Linked DNA regions of Homo sapiens. The protein of the gene in region 3 interacts with the protein of the main gene of each other region in a pairwise test. Each region holds a gene or a part of one and is shown on either strand. Other genes may lie near its edges. The genes, in order: JPH3, KLHL41, RCHY1 and HRG.

Region 1 (6,952 bases), on a different chromosome or scaffold from region 3:
TTCCCTAAAAAGTCACAACATAATCGCCGCTCCTTCTCCCTCAAATGTAAGCTCCGTGAGGGCAAAGATCTGTGTCTGCTTTGCTCAGTGTGGTTTTTCCAAAGCCTAGGACACCTGGCTGTCTGCTTTGCTCAGTGTGGTTTTCCCAGAGCCTGGCACACCTGGCTCATAGCAAACATTCCATCAGTATTTGTTGAATGAAAGAAATGATTCCTCAGGACTCTGGAGATGTCTGAGGAGCGTGGGCAGAGTGGGGTGCTCAGCCTCACCCCCAGATATTCTGAGGAGTTTCAGAGACAACGAAAGCCCTGGCTCCTCTCGTCCCCATGCCCTGCGTGAGCCCGGCCTGCACAGTCCTCCTGGAGCAGGCTCAGCCAGGAGCACCTCTGGAGGACAGGTCTGCAGAGCCTCCTGGCCAGAGCCTGGGGGTGATAGCAGCCCCTGGGCTCCAAACAGCCCAGCTGGAAGCGCCAGGCTGCCTGCCTGTCTCAGCCACCCACATCTGCTGCCCGGGCCTCCCTGTGCCTGCACGCGCGCGCACACACACACACAGGCCCACAGCCTGGAACCAAGGGAGCACCGTCTGCTCCCGCCCGGCCCTCAGCGCCCCAGGGTCAGGGAAGCTCTCCAACCTGCTCCATGAAAACAACAACGGCACAGAAAAGGCCGCCTGAGACCGGGGCTGGGCACGGCTTTGACAGGCAGGAGCATTATATAATTAACTGCCCCAGACTCCTCCTCCTCTTCGGGTAATAACGAACCCTGCTTTTCAGTTGCATAAGCCAAAATAATAATTACTCTCCAGCCCCCTGCCACTCCTGGATGTGGCCGTGGAGCAGGTGTTCCGAGCTTTCTTCATGAGACTCGGAGGCAGCGAGCGGGCGGGGAGGACTAGAGCACACGTACGCTCAGGATTTTTATTCTCGGCAGAAGCACAAGTCATTGCTGCGTCTCACTCCCTTCCCAGGCATCCATGCCTGAAACAGGCGAGCCGCCCGAGGGAGGCAGAGGACCCAGTGCCTCTGAGGATAAGCTCCCACATGGGAGTGGACTGGTCGGGGAAGCCAGTTTGTTTGGGGTCTGGCTTCCAGGAAAGGACCGGCTCCATGCGTGTCAGGTGCACTGAGGAGTGGATATCGGAGAGTCCAGGCAGGCGGGCAGCTGCAGAGCCGGCCAAGGTTCCCTGCACAGAAACCATCTTACAGCAGCAGCAGCAGCAGCAGCAGCAGCAGCAGCAGCAGCAGGCAGCTCCCTGGCTTCCGGCCCCGGCTCTGCCCCGAATGCGGTGGCATCTTAGAATGAAGGCACAGATCGATTCCCTCAACTAATGGTGAAAACGATGCAGCCACTGAAAGACGAGATTCCTGGGCTCTCACTGAGCAGATGGGCCTCCCTCCTCCCTCCAGCAGCCTGCTTCGACAGCGCTAGTCCGCGTCCAACCACCTAGAAGTGTACTGCCTGGCTGTTTTGGTTCGGGTTGGCATCCCCCGCCCCTAGCGCTCCCCATCACTCCCTTTCTCTCGGCTTGGGCAGATTCGGGGCTGAGGAAGGCCCTCGGGCGCCGCAGGAACACCAGAAGCGAAGCTGGGGCCTGATCGAAGGGCGGCCTCCAGGGTGGGGGGCAAAGCCAACAAGGGGAGGGGCCCTTCTCCCAGCCCCCTCTGCCCTTGCTGGGTTCCCCAGGGCCGCGGGCCCAGCCTGGCCCTTCCCGCAGGTCTCCGGCCTGCTGTGTCCGACGCACGGAGGCTCTGCTGGGCCCCGCCTGGCTCTGCCCCTGGAAAGCCCCCAACACCCTTCAGCTGGCACAGGGGCACTGTCCCCACCAGGCAGCGGGGCAACCTGTAGCCAGGAGCCGCCGTGGCTTCCAGGGAAGCCCGGGAAAGGCCCCTGGTGCCCACGGCCCAACCGGAGGACGCAGCTCAACTTCCCCAGAGATCCACAGAAGGGGCGCGATCGGAAGCACGTCCCTCCCGCCCCGGCCCGGCCCGGCCCGCGGCACCTACCTCCGTCCGAGTAGGTCTCGGTCCCGTAGCCGTCCTGCAGCCCGTTGCTCCAGGTCCCTTCGTATTTGGCCCCGTTGCCCGCGCACTCCCGCACCCCGTAGCGCCCCTTGAATCCGTGCGTCCACTCGCCCTTGTACACCCACTTCCCCTTGCTCTCCAGGCCGATGCCGTGGCGCTTGCCCTGCGCCCAGGTGCCCTGGTACGTGTTGCCGCTGGGCCAGGTGTAGACGCCCAGCACCTCGAAGCCGTGGCTCCACGAGCCGGTGTATTCGCCTTGGCCCTTGGGGCCGGTGCAGACGCCATGGCCGTGCGCCTTGCCGTCCTCCCAGCCTCCACAGTAGGACCCTCCGTCGTCAAAATTAAACCTGCCCCCACTGGACATGCATGTAACTCGGTTCCAGATCCCGCAAACGGTGAAAACGGACTCAGGCGATCGACACAGCAGAGTCGCGGCCGCCGGCGGCCCTGGGTCGCGAGCGTTTTCCGGAGGAGAGGAGGACGCGGCCCCGGAGCGCGGTCTCGGGCGCGGGCGGCCGCGGCGCCGGCTCCGGAGGAATTTCAGTCAATCGGGGGCGATTATTCCTTTTCGAGCTGCGCCGCGGAGCCTGACCAGCGTCTCGCGCTCCCGCTGGAGACAGGACCGGAGGGGAGGGGGAGGGGAGGAGGGAGGGAGGGGGCAGGAGCGGCGGCGGCGGGGCCCGCGGCTCCACCTCAGCGGCGAGAGGGCCCCTCGCCGGCAGCCCCGCGGGGAGGGCGCCGCGCCGAGGCCGGGCGGGGGGCAGCTCAGGCCCGGGCCGCGGCCCCCCACCTGCGGCTGCCGCGCTGCGGGCGCCCGAGGGCGGCGGCGGGGCCCGCGGGCGGCGGCGGCGGCACGGGCGGCGGCGCTGGCGGCTGCACCATATTGGGGGCCGCGGGCCGGGCGCGGGGCGGCGGCGGCAGCAGCAGCAGCAATGCGGCGGCTCGGGCGGCGGCGGCGGCGGTGGCGGCGGCGGCGTGCGCTCCGGGCCCGGCTCGCGCGCTCGGGCCGCGCGGCGCGCGCCCGCACCCCGCCCGCCCGCGCGCCCCCGCCCGCCCCCCGCCCCCCGCCCCCCGCCCCCGCCCCCGCCCCCGCCCCCGGAGCGCGGCGGTCCCAAGAGGGGCGCGGCCCAGCAGGCTAGGGCGCGGCGCGCGGGCGGGGACCCCGGGCGCCCCGCCCTCCGCGCCCCCAGCCCCGCGCTCCCCGCCCTGGGCTTCCCCGGGGCCCCCGCCGGACTGGAAACCGGGGTCCAGCCGGGGCGCCCCCGCCCCCTCCGGGAGTGGGATTTAAAGGCACAGGAACTGCGTCATGGGAAGGCGCGCAGCACTCAGGGCGCCCTCGGCCCCCTCCCGGGAGCTGGGCGGTGAGGCCTGCAGAGCAGGACCTGCCAGCTGAGCGCCCCTACCCTCGCCCCTGCCCGCCCCCGCGCCTCGCCCCTCCCGCCGGGCTCGGATCTGCCCCGCCTGCCCCTGACTCGACTGAGGCCCTTTGCAAACCACAGGTGGTTTTCTCCGGTGACAAACAATGCTTCCTTCTTCCTTCCGGGCAGCTTGGGTCCAAGAGTGGGGGGAGGGGGGCTTACCCCAGAAAACAGGGATTTGGCGAGTCCCTCTCCCCTATAAATTGAGTGAGAGTCGGGACACACGCGTGTATCTTGGAGCAAAGTCACCCGAATTCCGTGCGCCCTGCGCCCTGGCCAACAGGTAGCGCCCCCCCACTCGGGGAACGGTCGCGCTTTTGGGGAGCAAAGTGGGACCGCCATTCGGGCGTTTCTAGGTCTCTCTCCAGACATACTCTCACCCTCCGCCCCTCTTCCCACGCACAAGAGAGAGTCTGATTCTTGGATCCGAGCATCCTGGGATCCATTTAAAATGCATTTCCTGGACCATAAATCCTCAGGCAGAAGCCGGCGTCCCCAGCCCTCCTGAAATGCGTGCGGGAAATGGCAGCAGACCGGTGCAGTGGGCTGATGGGGGTGTGGAGGCTGCCCAGGGTCCTCGCTCCTGGGAGTGTGGGCCGGTGACCGCAGCGCGGTGAGCCAGAAACTGCAAGCCAGGCCTGGAGCCTGAGATTAGGACAGGAGAAGAGGTGCGATTCGGAGCCTCCAATCAGCCAGGAGCCCTGCTCAGATCTTCCCCTGTCCGAGAGAATCAGGATGGTCCCCACTCTTGGCTCACGGGGCTCTCAGAAAAATCAGCCCCTCCTGGGAGTCCCAGAGTTCAACCTCAGTCTCTTGCCTTGGGCACCAAAGCTCCCTCCCCAGAGTACCAGCAGCCAGGAGGACAGTCACCTCCTCATACACCCACTGTCAATGAGGAACATTTAGGGCGGTCGGCTTTGTTTTGTTTTGTGCAGTTACAGTGATTCATTGAGCTTTCTAGCGCTGTCTCCCTGTGCCCCTCTACAGAAGTTCTCTAAATGTCTGCGGTGGCATCATTGGACCAGCTACGTCTTGGACTTTATTGGAAGCTGCCAAATTGCTTTCCAAACACCTGGAGCAACTGACCTCTCACCCTTCAGTGTGCCTGGGTTTGTGGTTCTCTATTTCCTGGCCAGCACTGGTGTCCTCAAACTTCTGATTTTCTTTCCATTTATTTTACTTTGTTCATCTAAATGGGTATGAAATAATATCTCTGGGCTGTTTCATGTCCATGGAAATTTCTCTGTTGTAAATGTGTGGGCCAAAGGAACTGCACCTTGTCCTCAAGAGATTCGGGTCGAAACCTTGGCTCCGGGGCCCACCAGCAGTATGGCTTTGGGCAGTCACCTAATGTCCCTGAGCTCAGTTTTCTCATCTGTAAAATGGAGATGGCAGAGTTCCCATAGGGTTACCGTGGGAATTCAAAAGCTAGGCGCCCAGCACTCAGTAAGCGCTCGGGAAGTGGGAAGTAATGTTATTGGAAGCCAGCCCCCCAGGGAGGGTCATGGATTCCTGCATGGAGACACCCAGCCCTCTGCCTGTTGAAATAAACATTGCCACCACTCGTATGTTCTACTTTTCATTTCTTCCATTTTATTTCCAACCATTTTGCTGCTGAATCAGCAGCCCTCCTTCACACAAGCAGTGGATTGCAACTGAGATCCTATTGAAACACGGTGGTTGCTTCCAAGCAGTTACTGGTCAGCACCTTCCACCTTTGGCCAGTGTACACTCCGCTCCCTTGCAGTTCCAAGACCCCCACCTCCAACTGACCCTCTCTCATCTCCTGCAGTCAGTTACTCCAGCGGTGACAGGCTCTAGTCTCTGAAATGCAGATATTACAGGCATTTGTTCTGTGCAATTTGGAAATCACCGCCCTCCCGATAAAGTAGGGCTGGCAGTATTGATTTCACTTTGGAGGAAACTCTCCAAGCCTATAAACGTAGTACCACCCAGCCGTTTAAAAACAAAAACCAGGGAGAAGGGTAAAAAAGCTGTAACCCACATGTGAGCCAGGCACTAGGATGAAGACAGCACATTAGTCATCTCATGGACTCAGGTGATTTGGAATTACACTCTCCTTTTTAAAAGAATCACTTTTCCCCACCAACGTAAAGTGCCTTGCCAGAGGGAAAATAATGACTGGGCAGGATTCGAGCCCAAGTCTGCCTGGCCTTCCAGCCTGCACCCTTTCTGGCCTCCAGGCATGGGTCCTTGCTGTCTCTTTTGCCTGGTGCCTCTTCCCATGACAGTAGAGCTTTCTGGTCTCAGCTCCAGAGAGGCTTCCTGACTAGTGCAGAAAGAAAGCTCCCCCTGCATCCCCACAAAAGCCTATTAATCTCCTTCAAAGAACTGAGCCACGATCAACTTATCTGTGCTTGCCTTCTTGTCTTTGCCTGTGTTTACCATAACACTGTGAAATGTCCACAAGATCCCCCATTCCACGTGATCTTCTTCCAGTGTGGTGTTGACACCCCTCCTGTTGAGGGAGTGCTTTGGGGGAGCAAAGTGGGACTGCCATTTGGGCGTTTCTAGGTCTCTGTTGAGAGGTGGGCTCTGCATTCCCTTCCCCTGAATCTGGGCCAGTGTGTGATTATCACAGAAGTGACAGGATGTGACTTCAAAGGTCAGTTCATAAACAGCAACACAGCTTCTGCCTCATGCTCTTGGGGTGCTCAAGCTTGGAACCAAGTTGCCATGATGTAAGGAAGCTCAAGCAGCCCCTGGACGTGCCAACAAGGAGAGATACAGGGTCCTCCAACCCACAGCTCCAGCCAGACTCCCAGCCAGCAGCCAGCAGCATTTGACAGCCATAAAAGTGTACCATCTTGAAAGTAGACCCTCCAGACCCCAGGCAGGTCACCCCAGCTAAAGCCACATGCAGCTGAGACAAGCGTTCCCCATCACATCTTGTCAGAATTTCAATTTTCTGAAAAAAAAAAAAAAAAAAAAGAAGATTGTTGTTTTAAGCCAGGCATCACACAAACCATAACCCAGAGGCCAAATCTAGTCCACTGCCTATTTTCATAAACAGAATTTCACTGAAGCACAACCATGGCCATTCATTTGTGTGTCTAGAGTGGCTTTTACACTGCAACATAAGAGTGGAGTCGTTGTGACAGACACCATATAGCCTACAAAGCCTAAAATATTTACCATCTTGTTCTTTACAGAAAACGTTTACCACTTTTTGCTCACGGGGCTCTCAGGAAAATCAGCCCCTCCTGGGAGTCCCAGAGTTCAACCTCAATCTCTTGGCTTGAGCACCAAAGCCGCCTCCCCAGAGTACCAGCAGCCAGGAGGACAGTCACCTCCTCATACACCCACTGTCAATGAGGGACATTTAGGGCGGTTGGCTTTGTTTTGTTTTCTGCAGTTACAGTGATGCAGTGAGCTTTCTAGCACTGTCTGCCTGTGTATTAGTCTTCAAGGGCCGTCATAACAAAATACCGCAGACTGGGTGACTTCAACAACAGAAATGTCTTATTGTTTTTGAGGCTAAAAGTCCAAGAT
Region 2 (7,333 bases), on a different chromosome or scaffold from region 3:
CCCCGTCTGGGAAGTGAGGAGCGTCTCTGCCTGGCTGCCCATTGTCTGGGACGTGAGCAGCCCCTCTGCCTGGCTGCCCAGTCTGGAAAGTGAGGAGCGTCTCTGCCCGGCCGCCATCCCATCTAGGAAGTGAGGAGCGCCTCTTCCCACCCGCCATCCCATCTAGGAAGTGAGGAGCTTCTCTGCCTGGCCGCCCATCGTCTGAGATGTGGGGAGCACCTCTGCCCGGCCGCGACCCCATTTGGGAGGTGAGGAGCAACTCTGCCCAGCCGCCCCGTCTGAGAAGTGAGGAGACCCTCCGCCTGGCAACCGCCCCGTCTGATAAGTAAGGAGCCCCTCTGCCCAGCAGCCGCCCCGTCTGAGAAGTGAGGAGCCCCTCTGCCCAGCAGCCACCCTGTCTGGGAAGTGAGGAGCGTCTCCGCCCGGCAGCCACCCAGTCCGGGAGGGAGGTGGGGGGGTCAGTCCCCCGTCCGGCCAGCCGCCCCGTCCGGGAGGTGAGGGGCGCCTCTGCCCAGCTGCCCCTACTGGGAAGTGAGGAGCCCCTCTGCCCCGCCAGCCACCCCGTCCGGGAGGGAGGTGGGGGGGTCAGCCCCCCGCCCGGCCAGCCGCCCCGTCCGGGAGGGAGGTGGGGGATCAGCCCCCCGCCCGGCTAGCCGCCCCGTCCGGGAGGCGAGGGGCGCCTCTGCCCGGCTGCCCCTACTGGGAAGTGAGGAGCCCCTCTGCCCGGCCAGCCGCCCCGTCCAGGAGGGAGGTGGGGGGGTCAGCCCCCCGCCCGGCCAGCCGCCCGGTCCGGGAGGGAGGTGGGGGGGTCAGCCCCCCGCCCGGCCAGCCGCCCCGTCCGGGAGGTTAGGGGCGCCTCTGCCCGGCCGCCCCTACTGGGAAGTGAGGAGCCCCTCTGCCCGGCCACCACCCCGTCTGGGAGGTGTACCCAACAGCTCATTGAGAGCGGGCGATGATGACAGTGGCGGCTTTGTGGAGTGGAGGTGGGGGGAAGGTGGGGAAAAGATTGAGAAATCGGATGGTTGCCGTGTCTGTGTAGAAAGAAGTAGACATGGGAGACTTTTCATTTTGTTCTGTACTAAGAAAAATTCTTACCCTAAAACTTAAAGTATAATAAAAAAAAAAAAACTTCAGTTTTCTAAAAATTATATTTAAAATTGTAATCAAAATGTACCTAGTTTATAAATGTTTATTTTGTACTTAATACCTGTAAAGTCTTAGTTTTCAGACATTAAGTGACTGTATCATGTTCGGTTTAATAAAGAATTTATGCAGCACCATTTAACGTTTTGAAAGTATTATTTAAAAGAAAAAGACTATTCTTACGGAATAATCAAAATTCTGCTTTCTTAATTGTAAAAATCTGGTTTAAATATCCCATGGCTCCTGGCCAGGCATGGTGGCTCGTGCCTATAATCTCAACACTTTGGGAGGCCGAGGCAGGCAGATCACTTGAGGTCAGAAGTTTGAGACTAGCCTGGCCAACATGGTGAGACCCGTCTCTACTAAAAATATAAAAATTAGCTGGGCGTGTGGTGGGCACCTGTAGTCCCAGCTACCTGGGAGGGGCACGAGAATCACTTGGACCTGGGAGGTGGAGGCTGCAGTGAGCCAAGGATCGCACCACTGCACTCCAGCTTGGGCAACAGAGCAAGACTCCATCTCAATAAATAAATAAATAAATAATCACATAGCTCCAAATGTAAACCAACTCTAATACAAATTGTAATCCTTAAACCTGTCATTTTTGTAAAAACTAAAAATTACAACTAACTCTGGAATACATCAACCCCCCCCTTTAAAGTGCTTTGGATGCTATTTTGTAAGAATTTCAATGTAGTTTTGGCAAGAATACATTTACTTTGTAAGAAAATAGCTTTGTTTATTAACTTTCTCTTTGTATTTATTGAAACTTCTTTGAATTTTCAAAAATAGGATATTATTTTTCTCATTTCTTGGTTAGGTAAGACTTGTTGACCTCTCTAGGATCATTCGGTGTTTTTGACCACTGTTTCCGTGTAAAACACATTGTAAGGAATCTTTTTCAAATAATTGAAATTAGCCAAAGGAGCCCTCTTCTTCCAGAGGGAAAAGTATGTAAAAACATTTAAAATAAGATGCAAGTCTGTGTACAACCATAGACATACAGTACAACCAAGTGCTAACCTAAGTTTATTAAAAATCAACAAAAGCTACAAATTGGCTTCTTCATTTAAATGGAAAAGGATTTCTACATTTTAAGGGTTGGAATTATAATAAACCACCTTTAAGACGAGGGGAAAGAATGTATGAAAAATTTGTACTGGTCACAGATAAAATGCTGCCATAACTATTGTTTAAATATTGTTTTTTTCAAGCAAAAGAGACTATAAAATTGCTGACTAGTAAGGAATAATCTCAAATGTCATATGATGTTTGCATCTGACTCATTAATCTTTTCAAATGTTAGATGTTACATGTAGAGAGAAATGAGTCATTTATTGTTTAAACAAGGAAGCAGCTGTTAGTTTTTTCTGGTGTGTTAAAACCTTTAGTGGCATCTATAAATGGAAAAAGAGTCAATGAGCTCTTCTTTCAGCTGTTGTTTTAGCAGCTGACAGTACCATTGACTTCACTGTGATGTAAAATAAAAGAAAAGGCCTTTACTCATGGATAGAGACCTTGAAGTTTAAAAATACATAATTCCTTGATCTGGGGCATTCATTCATTCAACAAATACTTATAAAGCACTCACGAAACCCCTACGCTATAGCATTTGAAAAGAACAGACACTCCCACAATCCCTGTCTTCATGGAATTTGTTTTTGGGGGTATGTGTAAAAATACCAACTTTTGAAATTACAGTATTTCTACAGCCCTACTTGAGTTCAGATAATGTGACAATATGACTGTGTAATAAAGTATTTAATGGGCCCAGTGCGGTGGCTCACACGTGTAATCCCAGCAATTTGGGAGGCCGAGGCAGGCGGATCGCGAGGTCAGCAGTTCGAGACCAGCCTGGCCAACATGATGAAACCCTGTCTCTACTAAAAATACAAAAATTAGCCAGGCATGGTGGCGGGTGCCTGTAATCCCAGCTACTCGGGAGGCTGAGGCAAGAGAATTGCTTGAACCCGGGAGGCAGAAGTTGCAGTGAGCCGAGACTGCGCCATTGTACTCCAGCCTGGGTGACAGAGCGAGACTCTGTCTCAAAAATAAATAAATAAATGAAAGTATTTAATGAAGTATATTATACCATCTATATATAAACAAAGGACCGATTTTCTTTCAAATCATTACTTCTACCTCCATAATTAATATGGTATTCTATTATAATCAACAGCCTACGTTATGTCCCCAGTTATATACTCTTTAAAAAAAGGGGGGGCTGTTCTCTATGACCATTGTAGGAGTTCATCTTGATTTTGCTGTGTTTAGTGATAACATTGTTCTCATGGGGTTATATCTGTTCTATTTTTCACGTTTTATTTAATGAATGATAATTTTTGATATTTAAAATTACAGATTATCTTTTGTGATCTTATTTGAATGTGTGTGGACTTTTTCGTTCCCTAGATTGACTTTTAATTATTTTTTCTGGCTCTGTGATTCCTTTTAACCTTTTGCTTTTATTTTACCTTATTATCGTTTGCCACATTAGATCATTTGTATGACAAGGCAGGATATGAATAAATAATTTTATAATTTAATTCAATATTAATTACAGTTTTTCCATGTAAGAATAATTTGGAATGTTTTAGAAAATTAGCAATTCCTCTGCATTTCTTTTTTCAATTATCATGGCAACATTAAAGGTTTTGTAAAACTAGTACAGAAGTAAACATCTTTAAGTTTACTACTTCTAAAAGAAATATCTATATCCCACTGTTCTGAGTAGAAAGTAAAAATTTGTATGTTAACAATTATTGGAAATGAGATCTTGCTTATGAGTATTCAAATGAACACATCTCATATTCTTGACCTTTGCATCATTAATTCAGAGAGCCAAGTAGCTTGACACTAGAACATATTTAGAGGAGTGACTCATTTTTATGATTCATTTTTCTGTTAATTCAATAAACATTTTCTTGTAGTAGCCTTTATTAGTATATCTTCTAATGTGTTATGTATTTTTAAGCTTTCAACTTCACTTAAATGTCTTGTTTCTTAGCTGTTTCCCTAGTGATTAAAAGTTCCAGTTGTTACTTTCAATCTATAACAGCTGCAAGAACAACTCTTCTTTCCAAGCCAGCTCTCCTAAATTCCCGTTGTTAGAGTTGGTATCTATATTTAGCTAGTGGGATTAAATTGCAAAGGCTTCAAGCTGGGCAAAGCACACTGATCTGCCTTTTTACAGCTAGACCTGTGTGCTGCAAGGAGCTAAGGCCTTCAGTGTCCCCTTCCTTACCCAGGTTTCTCACAGAATGGATTCCCAGCGGGAACTTGCAGAGGAACTGCGGCTTTACCAATCCACCCTTCTTCAGGATGGTCTAAAAGATCTCCTGGATGAGAAAAAATTCATCGATTGCACCCTAAAAGCAGGTGACAAAAGTCTTCCTTGCCACAGATTGATTTTGTCAGCTTGTAGTCCTTACTTCCGTGAGTACTTTTTATCTGAAATTGATGAGGCGAAAAAAAAGGAGGTAGTGCTAGACAATGTGGATCCTGCTATACTTGATTTAATCATCAAATACCTGTACTCTGCCAGTATTGATCTCAATGACGGAAATGTGCAAGATATTTTTGCATTGGCCAGCCGCTTTCAGATCCCCTCAGTGTTTACTGTCTGCGTTTCTTATCTTCAGAAAAGACTTGCTCCTGGTAACTGTCTAGCCATCCTAAGATTAGGACTTCTTCTTGACTGCCCGAGACTCGCCATTTCTGCCCGTGAATTTGTGTCTGATCGCTTTGTACAGATTTGTAAGGAAGAGGACTTTATGCAACTGTCTCCACAGGAACTGATCTCAGTCATTTCAAATGACAGCCTAAATGTAGAAAAAGAAGAAGCAGTATTTGAGGCAGTGATGAAATGGGTGCGAACAGACAAGGAAAACAGGGTTAAAAACCTTAGTGAAGTGTTTGATTGTATCCGTTTTCGCCTTATGACAGAAAAATATTTTAAGGATCATGTTGAGAAAGATGATATAATTAAAAGCAACCCAGACCTCCAGAAAAAAATCAAAGTTCTAAAAGATGCTTTCGCAGGCAAACTCCCAGAACCTAGCAAAAATGCCGCGAAGACTGGGGCTGGTGAGGTGAATGGTGATGTTGGTGATGAAGATTTACTTCCTGGTTACCTGAATGACATTCCCAGGCATGGAATGTTTGTAAAAGACCTCATCCTCTTGGTTAATGACACAGCAGCAGTGGCTTATGACCCCACGGAAAATGAATGCTACCTTACTGCACTGGCTGAGCAGATTCCCAGAAATCATTCCAGCATTGTTACCCAGCAAAATCAGATATATGTGGTAGGAGGACTATATGTGGATGAAGAAAATAAGGATCAACCTCTACAGTCATACTTCTTCCAGGTAAGAAGGACTTTTTGTATATGTAGTTGCTTAAAGGGAAGGCTGTTACTCACCATCCAGTTAGCCAATTTGTGAATTATTCAAGCTGCTTGCATTTTACTCTAATTGATGTCCTATTCCAGTCCCTTGCACTTTTGCTGTATAGAGCGTTGACAGAAAAATATTTGACTGCTTTGTTAATGTGTAATAAAAAGTTTGGTGAATAATGAGGTTCTAATTCATGTTTAATGACTTAAGATGTTCTTTATACTATTTTACCAAAAATGCCTTGTTTATAGATGATCGTGACTGTAATCCCTCAAAGCCCAGTATTTTAGTAAAAACTAAATTTATTTTTTCTTAGCAGAGATGGGCTCTCACTATGTTGCCCCGGCTGGTCTCGAACTCCTGGGCTCAAGCAATACTCCCAGTTTGGCTTCCCAAAGTGCTGGGATTACCGGTGTGAGCCACCACCCCCTGCTGTAAAAACTAAATTTAATCTTGTATACTCTTACCTATTAAAAATAGTTAATGTCTTTCCCCAAATAGTTTCCCTAAATCAAAGTTCTTATCCATTATAAAGAAGTAATAATTGGTCAGATTTTCTTTTTTAATTTCTTTTTCTTCTTCATCTGCTGGCAGCTCTAAATTGGTCAGATTTTCTACCTTCTTCCAAGTTTCCCTGAACTTCATTTGAAGTTCTTGGAGGTAGCACTTCATCTCTTATTTATGGTTACTGCCTAAAATATAATTTTGTTGAAAATGAAAAAAACTTGTATATATATTCCACACACTTTGGATTATCTTCTAGGAAAAACTGTCTACACAAAAGTCGCTAATTTGAATTAATTATAGTTAGAAATTTTTATTATATCACATTTATTTGGATCAGAGATACATTTAGACATTATTAGAACTTAACAATCTGTTTTGTGAAACCACAGAATTTTCCAAGAAAATTAATTCTCCTAAACCAATATACCCTTAGTTGTTTGAAAGGAATTTGTCTTATATTATCAATGTGTTATACTTTATCAGTTTATGAAGGAGTTGGCTTAACCTTTGTCTTCCATAATGCCAATACCGAAACTTTATAGCTTACAACTGGCTCAAAAGAGTTTGTTTAGGTCATAGCTAATCATGGCTGGGGCTTATGGGCACTTTAGTTGGAAAGGCCAAAGATAAGCAAGTATACAATGTCATACCACAGTCACAGTATGCTCTCAAAGTGTGTGATATACTTTGCATTCACAAAATACTATTATACCTTTAATCAACTTTTTCTAATCTTGAAAAATGTAGTTGTGATAATACATATTAATCATGTTTCTTAATTTTCAAAGTTCCAGTGAAGAATGTTATAAGTATTTGAATGTGGGTCAGAAAATTTCCCAAGCCCTAATTTTAAAGTCAAATAAACGTCAAAAGTGGCAAAGTCAATGAAAAAGGCTATAAATACATCCAGGAAGTAAGAATGTTATAAAAACACAGATAGACAGATGACAGACATATAGGTAGATACCTACAAATGACAGATCCACGGAATAGTTGTTGCCATGGAATGATTCTCCAAAATTACTGGAGTTTTAAATTTCATTTCATATTTAATTTATTGAATATATCTATAACACGGTCCTTTTTACTTTCAAGTGTTCAGTTTAATCTTTGTCCTCTTCCAGCCTAATAAAACCCTTACTTTTACTGACGCAGCTTCTCATTTTTGGTTCAAGAAACCTACTTAATGTTCTGTATAACAGAACATTAACAATAACAGTTATACAAAGTTGGAAGGTCAGCAAAGCAAATGCCTTGCTGCTTTTAAAAGGCACTAATAGAACGGT
Region 3 (7,025 bases):
GTATTCTTAAGACTTTTTTTTTCCCGATCTGAGCTACTTAACTAAAATTTAAAAATCATTTTGTGCTTTCCATTAATCATCACATTAGCATCTGTGTCAAACCAGTATATATATATTTTTTTTTTGGCAAATTCAAGCAGGAGGGCAAAAATAAGAGTGCCAACAAGGAGTCTACAAAGTTTTAAGTATTGATTCTACTCACATCCACAGTCATGTTCTGATATTCTGATGGCATAGGAGTCTGTGCTACTTCATCATCCAGCTGTCTCCAATACCTGGTCATATCTAAAGCAGAGTGCATACATAATGGACATCTGTAGCCTCTGAAAGAGATAGAAAGGTTATTTTCCAAATATTAAACAAGAATATATTAATTCAGGTATACAAGAAGATGCAGGCTAACTGCCACATGAACCATTCAAAACAGGCATTTTCCTCCATTTCAAGATAATCTCTTAGGAACCTGGGAACTTTCACACTATAAAACTTTTAAATTAATTCCTGTATACTTATTTAAAACTAAGTCTTTTTCCTCAGTACTCTAAAATGGAGAGGAATTAGTCCATATTCTTTGTAGAATACACTTCATATATTTTTATAAACTAATTAAGCTACTCCTTATCTAAACAACCTTAATTTCTTAATACACTCATGTAAAGAGACTGTATTTGTTTAAAATTATTCAGATATTATTTCCTTTCTAAAAATTTGAAAAAAAGAATGCTCTCTCTAGCTCTTCACATTTTTGCTCATCAATATGTAGGACCAAAATACAGTCTTCTCTTTTCAATTATTTTCATCTAATTTTAATATCTTTTCCATTAATAAAGTCTTAGCTTTAATGATCACTTCACCTACTTTCTTTTAGTTTACTATACTTGGCCAATATAACAACCTAACAAATTTTTGGCAATATTTTTCAGCATTTTTACAACACTATAACTGCATCTGGCAAAAACTGCACTTCCTGGTATATATGGCCAGAAAAAAAAGAGGTAACTACCTCAAATTGTGGGAGGAGACAAGATTTAAGAGAAACATATGGCAAAAGTGTAGTTCTATATCCAAGACACTTTGTCCTGTTTTAACAATATTCATCTACCCTACCCATTTCAATATAAATATTGCCATGCCCAATATAGTATAAGTAACAATGTTTGTCCACCTCCCCACACCACACACACAAAAAAGTCAAACATCTTACAATTATTTTTAAAATCCCAAACACTCACTCTTTCAACATTTCTTCATAACACGTTCTGAAAGAAAATATAAGATTATTTTAGTAAAACAAAAACTGTCTCCACTATTTTCAAACATCATTGAGAAAAAGATGTTACTTTACCTATGTAAAAGATGTCCACATGGCAAGACATGAGCAACAACACGGGATGTGTGAATGTCCTGTAAATGAAATAAATGTTAGTGCTTGTATGAAGACAATATAAACATCCAAGTATTTTAAATTCAAGAGCTGAGACTTCCAAAGTAAAAAATATTTTAAGCCTACCTCCAAACATATTGGACAATTCTGTCGGGACACATTTTCAATACACTGTTTAAAAGAGAAATTCACATTAACAAAAGCTTAACTAGATTAAAATGTCAGGTATAAAAATATTAATAATAAAAATTAACAAAACCAACTTACTAAAAATAATAGCTAACATTAATATATGCTTTTTATATGTAAGAAGAGTTTTTTAATAGTTATTTAAATCTCACACTATTTCAGGCTTGGCATATTATCTGATACAATGAAAATGTCAATAAACATTATTGAGATTACCTTCATTTCACAAATAAGGAAAGTGACTTAGGAATTCAAGACACTTACCCAAGATCCAAAGATAATAAGATTTGGAACCTTTGCATATTATGTATGTTTTACTCCAAAGCCAGTGACCTAAATTAGTAAGCTCAACTTACTAATAATATTGGTAATAATAGTTCATATTATTGAAATTTACTACATGCCATGTTCAGCACAGTACCTGTATAAGATCAATTAAATCTCACAATCCTAGATGAAATAGGCTATGATTGTTATACCATTTTACAGTTAAAGCAGTGGAGGCCTAGAGAAGCTAAGGAACTTCCAAAGTCACACATTAATAAGAGGCAGAATTAAACTGGAGCTCCAGCAGGCTAACTTCAGAGCCAGAGTTCTTAATTTGACAAGATGTAATGTCTGATTAAATCCAAGGAGGTAAGGGAAAGCACTGTGCCATGGAAGACTCCCAGGTTTTTAACGGAAGCACTTAATAGATGGCAGGACCACTTAGTAATATAGACAATAAAAGATAACTGAAAAACAACATAACAAAAAAAACCATAACAAAAAAATAGATGTAAGTTTTTGAAAGATGACAGTATAGTGGGGAGAAAAACCCTCAAAATAATAAGCTTAATAGTAAGTTTAAAAATCTAGACTGTAATCCTAGCTCTGCTATTTACCAGCCCTTGAGATTTTGGACTAGCCACCACTTTAGTCTTAACGTTTCTTATTTATAAAATAAAATTAATACATATTTCATTTGATTCTAAAGTGCACCTCACACATACATTTTAACATCCCCACAATTACAACATATCTGATCATCAGTGGCATCTCTGAGTTGATGGAATGTAAATGCTGAGGTGAGGATGCAATGAATTAGTGTGTGCACACACACTACACATGCTTTGGAAACCAGAACATCATAGAAATGTAATCTATAAGATACTATTGACTCCTGGCTATCTCCATTAGCATAGCTTGCCATCACCCCAAACTCAAGTTTAAAAACCAAACTCAATCTTTTATCTTCAAAAAATTTACAATCTACTAATCAAGTACCTTAAGCTGGGGCTGAAAATCTTCAGAGTCATCTTTACTCTGCCTCATTCTTTTTCCTTAATACCATTACCACATCATATATGTTCATTATTCATCTCAATTTTCCTCACCACTTTACTATTTAGGCCAAGTTCTAGCTAATATTATATTTCTGCAATAACTTCTTATTCTTATATTCTATCGAACCTACTATACTGCTAAGTAAATGATTTCAAACAGTCTCTTTCCAATTAATGTCTATCTGTCTCTCTCTCTCTCAACAGCTACAATGTTGCTACTTATACTGTTCTGCCTTATCTGGAATTTCCTATACTTGAACAAGTACGATTTACACTTCACTTTACACCAATCCTCCATTCTCTTAATTAAATTCTTACAGTAGATAGAATCAGTACTATAATGTAATACTTTATTAGATTTTTTTTTAAATAATGAAAAAGGGCCTGGGATTGTGACATAATTCCTACATCCAGATTTAAAATATGTATGTCTTAATTATAAAAAGAAATAGTAAAATATTTTCTGAATTTTCTTAGAATGTTGTGCTAATTAGGTTACACCATTCAGTATTTCTCCTGTTTTAAAGTTATTCTTAAAAGCAGTACCAATGGTAAGAATCCATAAACTAACTTGGAAGTTGCCAACATTATGCTAGTAAGTGATATAAGCATTCTTACACTACAGAGAAGAAAAGGAACTGTAGGTCAGATATTCTGAGGTACATATTTTAAAATATCTACTTGTTAATACTGCTTTTCAAAAAAGCAATATAGTTGCACTTGGAAATACATGAAAATTAGCATGCTTCCAAAACATATTAGAAGTTAAGCTTATTGCAAAAACACTGTAATATTTTTAAAATTATACAAACTAAATTATATACCTTGTGTCTTCCTTGAAGATTCATAGCTAGGCATAAGTTACATTTCAAACAATGGAAAAAATCTTCCTTTGGACCAATCCTAGCAAAACACATGAAAGCCAAAAGATTAGATTATTTTTTACTACAGTCATGATTTGTTCATTATGTAAAACACAAGTTTAGTCTCTGTAAAAAAAATTTCCAGCCACAATGGAGAATATGGGATAAATCCCTATCTCCCCAACATCCCTCTCCAAATGTAAGCACTATACACAGAGTGGTATCTACCCTTCTAGGGCTTTTTTTTCTTTTTCTATAAAATTGCAAAAAGAGAGAAACACAGACACACACACACATTTCGGGTTTGATTTCTTACATTAATGGATTCTTTCTACAGATGCCATTCTGCAACTTTTTTTCACTTGATATATTCTGAGGATTTTATGTCTGTCTACACAGAACCACTTCATTCTTCTTAATAGCTACATTAATGGCATGGATGTATACTAATTTTTTTAAATATTCCCTCAGAAAGATCATAATTTATGATCTTTAGTTGCTACAATGATACAGTAAACATCCTTGTCCAGACATCACTTAGTTCACATGTTGATTATTTTTTACGAGATTCCTAGAAGTGAAACTACTGAGTCAGAAGATGTTGCAACATTAATTGTGATACTGCCAAACTGACCTCCAAATAGACAGTACCAATTTATACTTCCACCAACACTGCATGAGAGTAACCATGTTCCCCACACTTTGGGTAACATGGTTACTTGTATTATAGACAAACAAAAGATGTCATTTTAATTTGCATTTCACAAATAATGAGACAGGGACTGTACATTAATGAACTACTTGGATTTCTCTGTGGATTGTCTGTTCATATGTTCTGTCCATTTTTCTACTGAAGTATTTGTTTTTAACCAATTTACTGGTAAAAAATATATCATGAATATTAGTTATTTATATAATGAATATCAATGTTTTCATTCGCATGTATTATATTTATATATCACCAATATCAATTTTTTATTTGCATATTTTATATTTACTTTTCTGGTCTGTGATTTCTCTTAACTTTGTCATATAGCCATTTTTAATTACTATGTGGTAAAAAGTCATCAATATTTTCCTGTATAGCTTATGCTTTCTGCCTCTTGTTTAGGAAACTTTTGTAACCTATAGATCATAAACAGACTCTCCTATGTATACTTCTAGTACTTACAGCTTTTCATTTTTATATTTTTCTTTAATCCATTTGAAATTTGCTATATATGGCAAAGGTTAGATTGCTACTTGTCCCTAAATTTCTATTCTCCACTTCTTCTACAATGATAGGGTATTTAGCTAGGCACTGAGCTATTCAGAACTGTCCTGAATAAAGACTATTTTCCAACATACCTGGACGTTGGGAACAGAAGAGATACATGAAAATTCTGCATTGTACCCTCAAGAGGAAAAATATGCCTTCCCTTCACCTAACTAGCCTTTCTACAGACCAGAATATGAGGCATTTTAGACTACAGAGACAAGAAAATATCTTATGGGTGACAAGGCAAAAAACAAGAAGAGCCTGAGTTCCTGTTTAGCTACACAACTCAGATTTATTTCCATGAGAAATGAACTTCTGCCTTTCTTGAACCACCATTACTTTGGGTTTCTGTCACAAGATGCTAAATCCATACTCTAATGAATACAGTTTGAAGAGTCAATTTTTGGTTTCCGAATGGATAATCAATTATCTTAATACTACCCTTTCCTGATTTGAAATGTCACTTTTGCCATAAATTCATATGTATAAATATTTGTCTGTGTATATACACACACACATATTTATCTATTCGTCTATTCCTGCACAAACAGCAAACTATTTGAATTACTATAGCTTTATCATGTTTTGATATGTGGAACGGCAATCCACTCTTCGTTGTCCTTCCTTCAAAATTTACTCAGCTATTGTGAATTTTCTCTTACAAATGAACTTTAGAATAGGCTGTCAAACTCCATAAGTAAAATTCTGCAGGGACGTTTCCACTACTGCCAAAGATAGAATAACGGAGATCAGACCTACCCTCCCATCTGAAAAAATAATGACAAAAGACAGAATATATGAAACAGCAGTTTCACTGAACATCAGGCAACAACACAGAGTGATCTGTGAGAGATAAGAAACAAAGTAAGTGAGCCCTAAAATTGCTCATTTATTGCCTAGAGAGTTTTGAGGCCAGGACAGGTTAGAAGAACTAAGGGTGAGCTAGGAAGACATCATGATTGAAATGATGAGCTGAGACAGTCTAGAGAAACCAAGACAGATTCATAGGACAGAGCATCAGATAGGAGAGAGCTGCACAGAGAAACCTCTGAAATATTTAGTAGGATACCCATCAGCACATGGATGTAAGAAAACTACCCAAAGCCAGGGAAACAACCTTCTAAAGAATGAGAACAGTACTACTCACACATGGCTAGGAACAGTGCCTGATCCCATCAAACAGACTGGGGAAACTCATAATTCGCAGGCTCCGGGTGGAGTATTCAGAAGGATATTGCCTCAACAGTGGAGAATAGCCCTGGGATAAGCCCTTCTGTAGATCTACCTAACAAATTAGAAAAGTAAATCCCAGAAAGTCTAAACTGTTTCCAAGTAACTTAACTGCATCCCAAAATAAAGCTCAAGAAGATTTATAGGAATACAAAAATACCCAGCACTAAACATGATAAAAAGAAAAATCACATCTGATATCCAACCCACAATAACCAGGCAACAAAGAGGCAGAAAAACACAACCTAAAATGAGAAGAATAATCAATCAATCAACCCAGAACAGACACAGATGTTAGAATTAATACAGGGCATTAAAAGTTATTATAACTGTATACCATTACATTAAAAAAGTATTAAATATGAAAAATATGTTTAAAGACCCAGATCAAACTTCTAGACATAAAAACTACAATGTCTGAGATTTAAAAATACACTGATGAAACTAATGGCAAGTTTGATATTGCTAACAAAAAGGTTAGTCAACTTGAAGGCACAGTAACAGAAACTATCCGAAATGAAATAGGAAGAAAAGGGAATTTTTTTAAAACGACAGAGCATGAGTAAGCTGTGAGACAACTTCAAGCAACCTAACATACATGTGTTCAGTTGAGCCTAACGCTGCCTCCTACATATTTTAAGATCGTCCTAAAAGGCTTTGCTGTACATAGTTAACTGTAACCTAACTGGATGTGTTTACCTACAGTAACCTACTCTAGTACCAATCAATCACCAAGTTTCATCCAATCACAGGCAGTCCTCGGTTCAAACTGTGTT
Region 4 (7,107 bases), on a different chromosome or scaffold from region 3:
CTCTGATCCACCTGACATTCACCCCATTTCCCCATATTTTCTCCTTTCCTGTTCCTCACCCTGATCACGCTTGATTTATTGATGGCAGTTCCACCAGGCCTAATCGCCACACACCAGCAAAGGCAGGCTATGCTATGGTACAAGCCACTAGCCCGCCTCTTAGAACCTCTCATTTCCTTTCCATCGTGGAAATGTATCCTCAAGGAAATAACTTCTCAGTGTTCCATCTGCTATTCTACTACTCCTCAGGGATTATTCAGGCCCCCTCCCTTCCCTACACATCAAGCTCAGAGATTTGCCCCCACCCAGGACTGGCAAATTAGCTTTACTCAACATGCCCCGAGTCAGATAACTAAAATACCTCTTGGTCTAGGTAGACACTTTCACTGGATAGGTAGAGGCCTTTCCCACAGGGTCTAAGAAGGCCAACACAGTCATTTCTTCCCTTCTGTCAGACACAATTACTCGGTTTGGCCTTCCCACCTCTATACAGTCCGATAGCAGACCGGCCTTTATTAGTCAAATCAGCCAAGCAGTTTTTCAGGCTCTTAGTATTCAATGAAACCTTTATATCCCTTACAGTCCTCAGTCTTCAGGAAAAGTAGAATGGACTAATTGTCTTTTAAAACCTCAGCCACCAACTTAAAAAGGGCTAGAAAAACTTTTACCTCTTTCTTTTCTCAGAAGTCAGGCCTGTCCTCAGAATGCTACAAGGTACAGCCCATTTGAGCTCCTGTATAGAGGCTCCTTTTTATTAAGCCCCAGTCTCATTCCAGACACCAGACCAACTTAGACTGTGCCCCAAAAAACTTGTCATCCCTACTATCTTCTCTCTAGTCATACTCCTATTCACTGTTCTCAACTACTCATACATGTCCTGCTCTTGTTTACACTGCCAGTTTACACTGTTTCTCCAAGCCATCACAGCTGATATCTCCTGGTGGTATCCCCAAACTGCCATTCTTGAAGTAAATAAATAATCTTTGCTGGCAGGACTACGCTGAATCTCCTTAGGCACTCTAATTAGATGTCCTAGGTCTTCCCAATTCTTAGACCTTTAATACCTGTTTTTCTCCTTCTCTTATTCCATTTAGTTTCTCAGTTCATACAAAACCATATCCAGGCAATCATCAATAATTCTAAATGACAAATGTTTCCTCTAACAGTCCCACAATATCACCCCTTACCACAAAATCTTCCTTCAGCTTAATCTCTCCCACTCTAGGTTCCCACGCCGCCCCTAATCCCACTCGAAGCAGCCCTGAGAAACATCGCCCATTATCTCTCCATACCATCCCCCAAAATTTTTGCCATCCCAACACTTTACCACTATTTCATTTTATTTTTCTTATTAATATAAGAAGACAGGAATGTCAGGCCTCTGAGCCCAAGCTAAGCCATCATATCCCCTGTGACCTGCACATGCACATCCAGATGGCCGGTTCCTGCCTTAACTGATGACATTCCACTACAAAAGAAATGAAAATGGCCTGTTCCTGCCTTAACTGATGGCATTATCTTGTGAAATTCTTTCTCCTGGCTCATCCTGGCTTAAAAGCTCCCCTACTGAGCACCTTGTGACCCCTACTCCTGCCTGCCAGAGAACAACCCCCCTTTTTCCTTTACCTACCCAAATCCGATAAAACGTCCCCACCCCATCTCCCTTCTCTGACTGTCTTTTTGGACTCAGCCCGCCGGCACCCAGGTGATTAAAAGCTTTATTGCTCACACAAAGCCTGTTTGGTGGTCTCTTCACACGGACGCGCATGAAAGATACCATCTGTGTAAAGTCAGCACTTCCATCTGAGGCCACTCTCTAGTTCCCATAATGCTAATAGGAACCATCCCCAAAGCCAAATATCACTTACTGGATCAGAGTTCTCAGGACAGAATGTCTCTCTTACTACCATTCAGCTTCCTCCCAACCATTACCATCCCAGCACCCTTAATGTGCTCTCTCCCCTGAAGCTGCTCCAGTTGCTAGAATGGCATCATTAGTACTGTATCACTCTTTAAGATTCAGTAAAGCAACAGGAAGAGGATGCATGACTCCCTGAGGTACTCTGTAGTCTCAGCAGAACAGCACTGTAGGAAAATTATATTCCTGTTCTTGATGCCTCTTCCCATCCCCTCAACATTCCCATTCCTTTCCCTACACCAGCATTTGGTTCACCCAGGACACCCCATTTAGGGTGCAGCCAATATAGCCATAATAGAAAAACTTCATTAAGGAGCTCAACTCATAATAACAAAAACTCAAAATAGTTTTTGTTTTAATCAATAGCTTTCCCCTTCCCCACTGGGTTGGAGCCTCTTAACACCTTGACCAGATTCCATACATTCCTGTCATTTTCTGTTGCACTGGACTGGTCCCATTGGGTATTTAAAAGCCAGGGTTACTGACATTAAAAGTTCAATTGCAAACATTATTCAAAACCTGTTGCACTCATTAACCCTGTGACTTGTGGAAATGAGATCTACTTTTCATACACCTCCCTTTTCTTTCTGTCTTCAAATCCTTTCCCTCTCTTCAGTTCACTCTAGAATCCCAGTAATTCTCAACCTTGACTGCACACACTGGATTACCTAGGAGTTTAAAAACTACCAATACCAAAGTCCACTCCCAGAGATTCTGATTAAATTGTCCTGGAGGAGTCCTTGACATCAGGACTTTTTAAAGCTCCTGGGGTGATTCTAACATGAAGCCGAGTCTGAGAGACATGACTGCAGACTCTCACAGACACTCACTGCGGATAGAACAGGGAGGAATGGAGATGCTGCCTAACTGGCTGTTTCTTGGCAGTGAGGACGGAACCTAGGCTGATTCCCTCTGGTCCCTTCTGATGCTGCTGGCTCTGCTGGTCTGAGGGTTGCATATAGGTATACGGGTTTCTTCTGAAGTGTGAAGGTAGGGGGTCAGCTGTATCATAGCCCAGTCCCCCCCTGCTGATCCCTTCTAACAGTGGGATGGGCATCCAACTATTTGACTCTTACTCTCACCACCATCCTCTTCCACGTGAATCAATTCTTTTTGCAGGGAATTGGGGTGGCATGAGGTGTCCCCAACTTCTTTGCAGGCACACTAATAATAAATAGCATCACTTATTCAGCATCTACTCTATGCCAAGAATTATACTGGTTGCTTTCTTTTTTTCTTTCTTTCTTTTTTAGATGGAATCTCACACTGTCGCCCGAGCTGGAGTGCAGTGGCGCGATCTCAGCTCACTGCAATCTCCGCCTCCCGGGTTCAAGTGATTCTCCTGCCTCAGCCTCCCAAGTAGCGGCGATTACAGGCATGTGCCACCATGCCCAGCTAATTTTTTGTATTTTTAGTAGAGACAGGGTTTCACCATGTTGGCCAGGCTGGTCTCAATCTCCTGACCTTGTGATCAGCCTGCCTTGGCCTCCCAAAGTGCTGGGATTACAGGCATGAGCCACCGCACCCAGCCTGATTTCTTATTTAATTATCACACAAGCCTGCCAAGAGGTATCAATCCATATTTCGTAAATGAGGGAACTATCAGAGAAGTTTTGTTGCTTACCCAGCATTACACAGTAAGAAAGTAATAGAGCCAGGTGAGAAATTCAGATTTGACTTCAAAACGACAGCCTCTTCATTGTTCTATTTTACCTGAAGTCATTCCTTTTATAATGGTACCTGTTTAACATGTTCCCCCGCTTAGATAATGCAGCTGCCTTCTACTGAGGAGTTTTAGTGCCATGATCCATCAGTCCACTGACTGATGATGGAGATTTCCAGCTGAGACAGGCAGGCAGATGGAGGAAAATTACCCCTAGCCCCACCCCCTACACCAACATAGGCACTGCTTATATTCAAAGACGTACTTTAGATCTGCTATCTACTAGAAAAATCCAGATTTGTGCAGATCACAGTTCCACCCACTCATCAGCATTTCTCAGCTTTCTGCCCCCAGGACCCACTAATCATTTACAGCTTGTTGATGGTTATTTGAACCCAGGGTCAAGGTGAACACCCTCAGTTACACAACAAAAATGTATCAAGGTTTTGTTTAATCAATTGCGTGTGTTTCAGAAAGTCTGTATAAAATTCTCTGCAGTGGCAGATCATAGCAAGGGATGGTTTAACAAAATGAAGGCACTCATTGCAGCACTGCTTTTGATCACATTGCAGTATTCGTGTGCCGTGAGTCCCACTGACTGCAGTGCTGTTGAGCCGGAGGCTGAGAAAGCTCTAGACCTGATCAATAAAAGGCGACGGGATGGCTACCTTTTCCAATTGCTGCGGATTGCTGATGCCCACTTGGACAGAGTGGTGAGGAATTGCCAATGGCAGAGCTGAGTTGGGAGATTACTCACGGGGGCAAATGTGACTCTACCCCCTAGGCTTACTGCTTTGCACAATGAATGGCTTTGGTCAGAGTTTTTTGTTTGGCTTCTGCGGCTGCTCTAAATTGTTCTTTTTTCCTTCAAACTAATATTTGTTATTAGTGTACCCGCAACTATGATTCGATTTGTGGGTACATATAAGCATTTATGCTGAGCCCAGTTACATGCTAAGGACTGCCAGAGAAACATTAGAATAAGCTATGGGCCTTGGCCTCCAGGAAATAATAATACACTGGCACATACAGGCAAACAGTGTAAGTTACTAGGATAAACTAGAGAGAAGGAAAAGTTTTCTCAACCCTCCTAAGGCTCCTAACTGAGCCTGAAATAAAACTGGTAGACAAGGCCAGGCGCGGTGGCTCACGCCTGTAATCCCAGCACTTTGGGAGGCCAAGGCGGACGGATCATGAGGTCAGGAGTTCAAGACCAGCCTGGCCAACATGGTGAAACCCTGTCTCTACTAAAAATACAAAAACTAGCTGGGCATGGTGGTGCACGCCTGTAATCCCAGCTACTCAGGGGGTTGAGGCAGAAGAATCGCTTGAACTCGGGAGGCAGAGGTTGCAGTGAGTCGAGATCATGCCACTGCACTCCAGCCTGGGCAACAAAGCTAGACTCCATCTCAAAAAAAAAAAAGAAGAAGAAGAAAACATACAAATTTATTTAATCCAAGGTTTACCTGACACTGGAGTCTTCATAAATGAAGACTCAGATATCCAAAGAAACTGGCCACTTGCATACTTAGAATTCACAAAGGCTGTGCAGAATGCAGAAGTGTGATGGGACAAAAGGCTGTAATCTAAGAGTCATAGACTGAAAGAAGGACCCAGCAAGGCCTCTCTGTTTGAGTTCTTCATGGCCTCTCTGTGTGGCATTTCTTGCTCCCAAGTATGGGACAGGATCCCTTTGGAATGCGGATCTGAGGACCTACTATCAAACAGAGTAGGTCAGAGAATGTCTTTATGGCCAGCTCCTACAAAGAAAGACACAGGGGGAAGGTTAGATTCATATTTTAGGATTTATGGATGCTTTCGGGGAGAGGGATTCTACCATCTGTGACTGTCCTGGAGAAGAGAAATTTTAGTTTCTATGGCTTGCCTTGGGGGAGAAAGCAGAGTAGGAGAACAAAGGGCAGAAGGTCAGACAGATCTGGCTTCTGAGGCCCTTCCCATTTTCTTCAGTTCAAAGGACTCAGCACGCCAAAAGTACCATACTTTGAGATACCATGTTCTGAGCCCCAACAATAGCCAAGTGACCAAAGGAGTGGTAAATGTACTGGAGCAATTTAATGAGGGGAGATCTAGTAAGACTGGATGGGAGGAGGCTTCTGCTGTGTAATGATGCATGGGTAGGATTTGAACAGGTCTGGGTAAATGTGTTCCTGGTGAATTCCTGGCACCACCACTTCTAGGTGGGTATGGAATCAGGAAGAAGGGTGTTAGGGAGCCATTGAATATAAGCAGGTGGGTTCCAGAAGTTCCATGTGGGCTCTGGAGCAGGCATCAGGTAGGAGCCAAGCCTGTGGGCTTGTCTTGAGGTGAAACAAGCTTACTGTCTTCGCTTAGATTACACGCCTACCTAAACTGGACTAGAGGAGCCGATAGACATTATAGAGAGACATGAAGCCTGCCTCTAAGCTCCCCAAATAACCTACTCTCCCTCTGATGGAAAAACTGAAATTAGGGAGGCCAGACAAGGAGTACTACAGAGGACAATTTACCCTTCTGAAAGTATCACAGAGGGAGGCACTGTGGGTTGCAGAGAACAGGTGTGCAGGAGTTTAGGATTCAACCAGTAATTCAGTGACCATTAGTCCCATGCCAGGCTCATCAACACATGTTAGGGCATAGGATGCATCAGCACAGAGCTGCCTCTGAGAGCTAGCATAGAGAGCGGGTGGATGGGGAGGGGTCCTGATGTGCCTGGGGAAACTGAGGCAAGAGACAGGGACATGAAGTAGAAAGCTATTTATGTATTCAGGAATGAAAGAACAAGGGTCAGACCTGGGTTAGTGGGAGTCAGGGCAATGAGACTGAGGAATAGACATGAGAGACGTTGCCAAGAAAGACCATTCAGGGCCTGGTACTGGATAGCAAAAGCAAGGACAAGGAAAACATCTCGTAGGTTTACATGTTTTACCCCAGAGTCTAAGGCAATATGTTGTTAGTGGTGCCACTGACAAAGACGAGGGAAGTGGAGAGGGCAGCTAGTTTGTAAGAGAAGAGAGAGGATTTAGCTTTGGGCAAAGCAACATCAAAGCAGAAAATCCCATGATCAGTAATAGAGCTGGGCAAGAGGACACAACTACAAGGACAGATTGGAGGCCCTGATGAGGTCGTCATGACTTATACTTCCAGGCATGCGTAGGTGATGATGCCTCCGCTAAACCACCACTGCCGTTTAGTGATAGCTTCTTCAAGTTTATGGGCAGAAGACAAATCAGGACCACTTAAAAAGATTTGGAAATAACTCATTGAAGCTATGTATTGGAATCAATAGATCAAATGACGCAAAGGTAGAGCATCTGCAAAGACAGTGAGAGGAACAGGAATTCTGTTTAAGTAATAAATATATAGCTTTAATACATAAAAAAAAACCCGCTAGGTTTCCATGTGCTACTCACATGTTGCTTTTGGCATTCCTCAGGAAAATACAACTGTATATTACTTAGTCTTAGATGTGCAAGAATCGGACTGTTCGGTCCTATCCAGGAAATACTGGAATGACTGTGAGCCACCT

Evidence for each region.
Region 1: the proteins of RCHY1 (region 3) and JPH3 interact in binary tests that used the Homo sapiens proteins (3 or more experiments, as listed by UniProt).
Region 2: the proteins of RCHY1 (region 3) and KLHL41 interact in binary tests that used the Homo sapiens proteins (3 or more experiments, as listed by UniProt).
Region 4: the proteins of RCHY1 (region 3) and HRG interact in binary tests that used the Homo sapiens proteins (3 or more experiments, as listed by UniProt).

Annotation. Positions count from the first base shown.
Region 1 is NC_000016.10:87,598,580-87,605,531, reverse strand, and holds the start of JPH3 (junctophilin-3), read right to left. Parts: upstream 3,025-6,952; 5' UTR 2,386-3,024; coding exon 2,004-2,385; intron 1,444-2,003; coding exon of another isoform or gene 1,373-1,443; exon of another isoform or gene 1,293-1,372; coding exon of another isoform or gene 1,114-1,292; exon of another isoform or gene 904-1,113; intron 1-903. UniProt on the Homo sapiens protein: Junctophilins contribute to the formation of junctional membrane complexes (JMCs) which link the plasma membrane with the endoplasmic or sarcoplasmic reticulum in excitable cells.
Region 2 is NC_000002.12:169,505,376-169,512,708, forward strand, and holds the start of KLHL41 (kelch-like protein 41), read left to right. Parts: upstream 1-4,326; 5' UTR 4,327-4,403; coding exon 4,404-5,513; intron 5,514-7,333. UniProt on the Homo sapiens protein: Involved in skeletal muscle development and differentiation. Regulates proliferation and differentiation of myoblasts and plays a role in myofibril assembly by promoting lateral fusion of adjacent thin fibrils into mature, wide myofibrils.
Region 3 is NC_000004.12:75,490,379-75,497,403, forward strand, and holds part of RCHY1 (RING finger and CHY zinc finger domain-containing protein 1), read right to left. Parts: intron 3,802-7,025; coding exon 3,723-3,801; intron 1,556-3,722; coding exon 1,511-1,555; intron 1,405-1,510; coding exon 1,346-1,404; intron 1,260-1,345; coding exon 1,233-1,259; exon of another isoform or gene 1,205-1,232; intron 324-1,204; coding exon 203-323; intron 1-202. UniProt on the Homo sapiens protein: E3 ubiquitin-protein ligase that mediates ubiquitination of target proteins, including p53/TP53, TP73, HDAC1 and CDKN1B. Mediates ubiquitination and degradation of p53/TP53; preferentially acts on tetrameric p53/TP53.
Region 4 is NC_000003.12:186,661,921-186,669,027, forward strand, and holds the start of HRG (histidine-rich glycoprotein precursor), read left to right. Parts: upstream 1-4,093; 5' UTR 4,094-4,111; coding exon 4,112-4,294; intron 4,295-7,014; coding exon 7,015-7,107. UniProt on the Homo sapiens protein: Plasma glycoprotein that binds a number of ligands such as heme, heparin, heparan sulfate, thrombospondin, plasminogen, and divalent metal ions. Binds heparin and heparin/glycosaminoglycans in a zinc-dependent manner.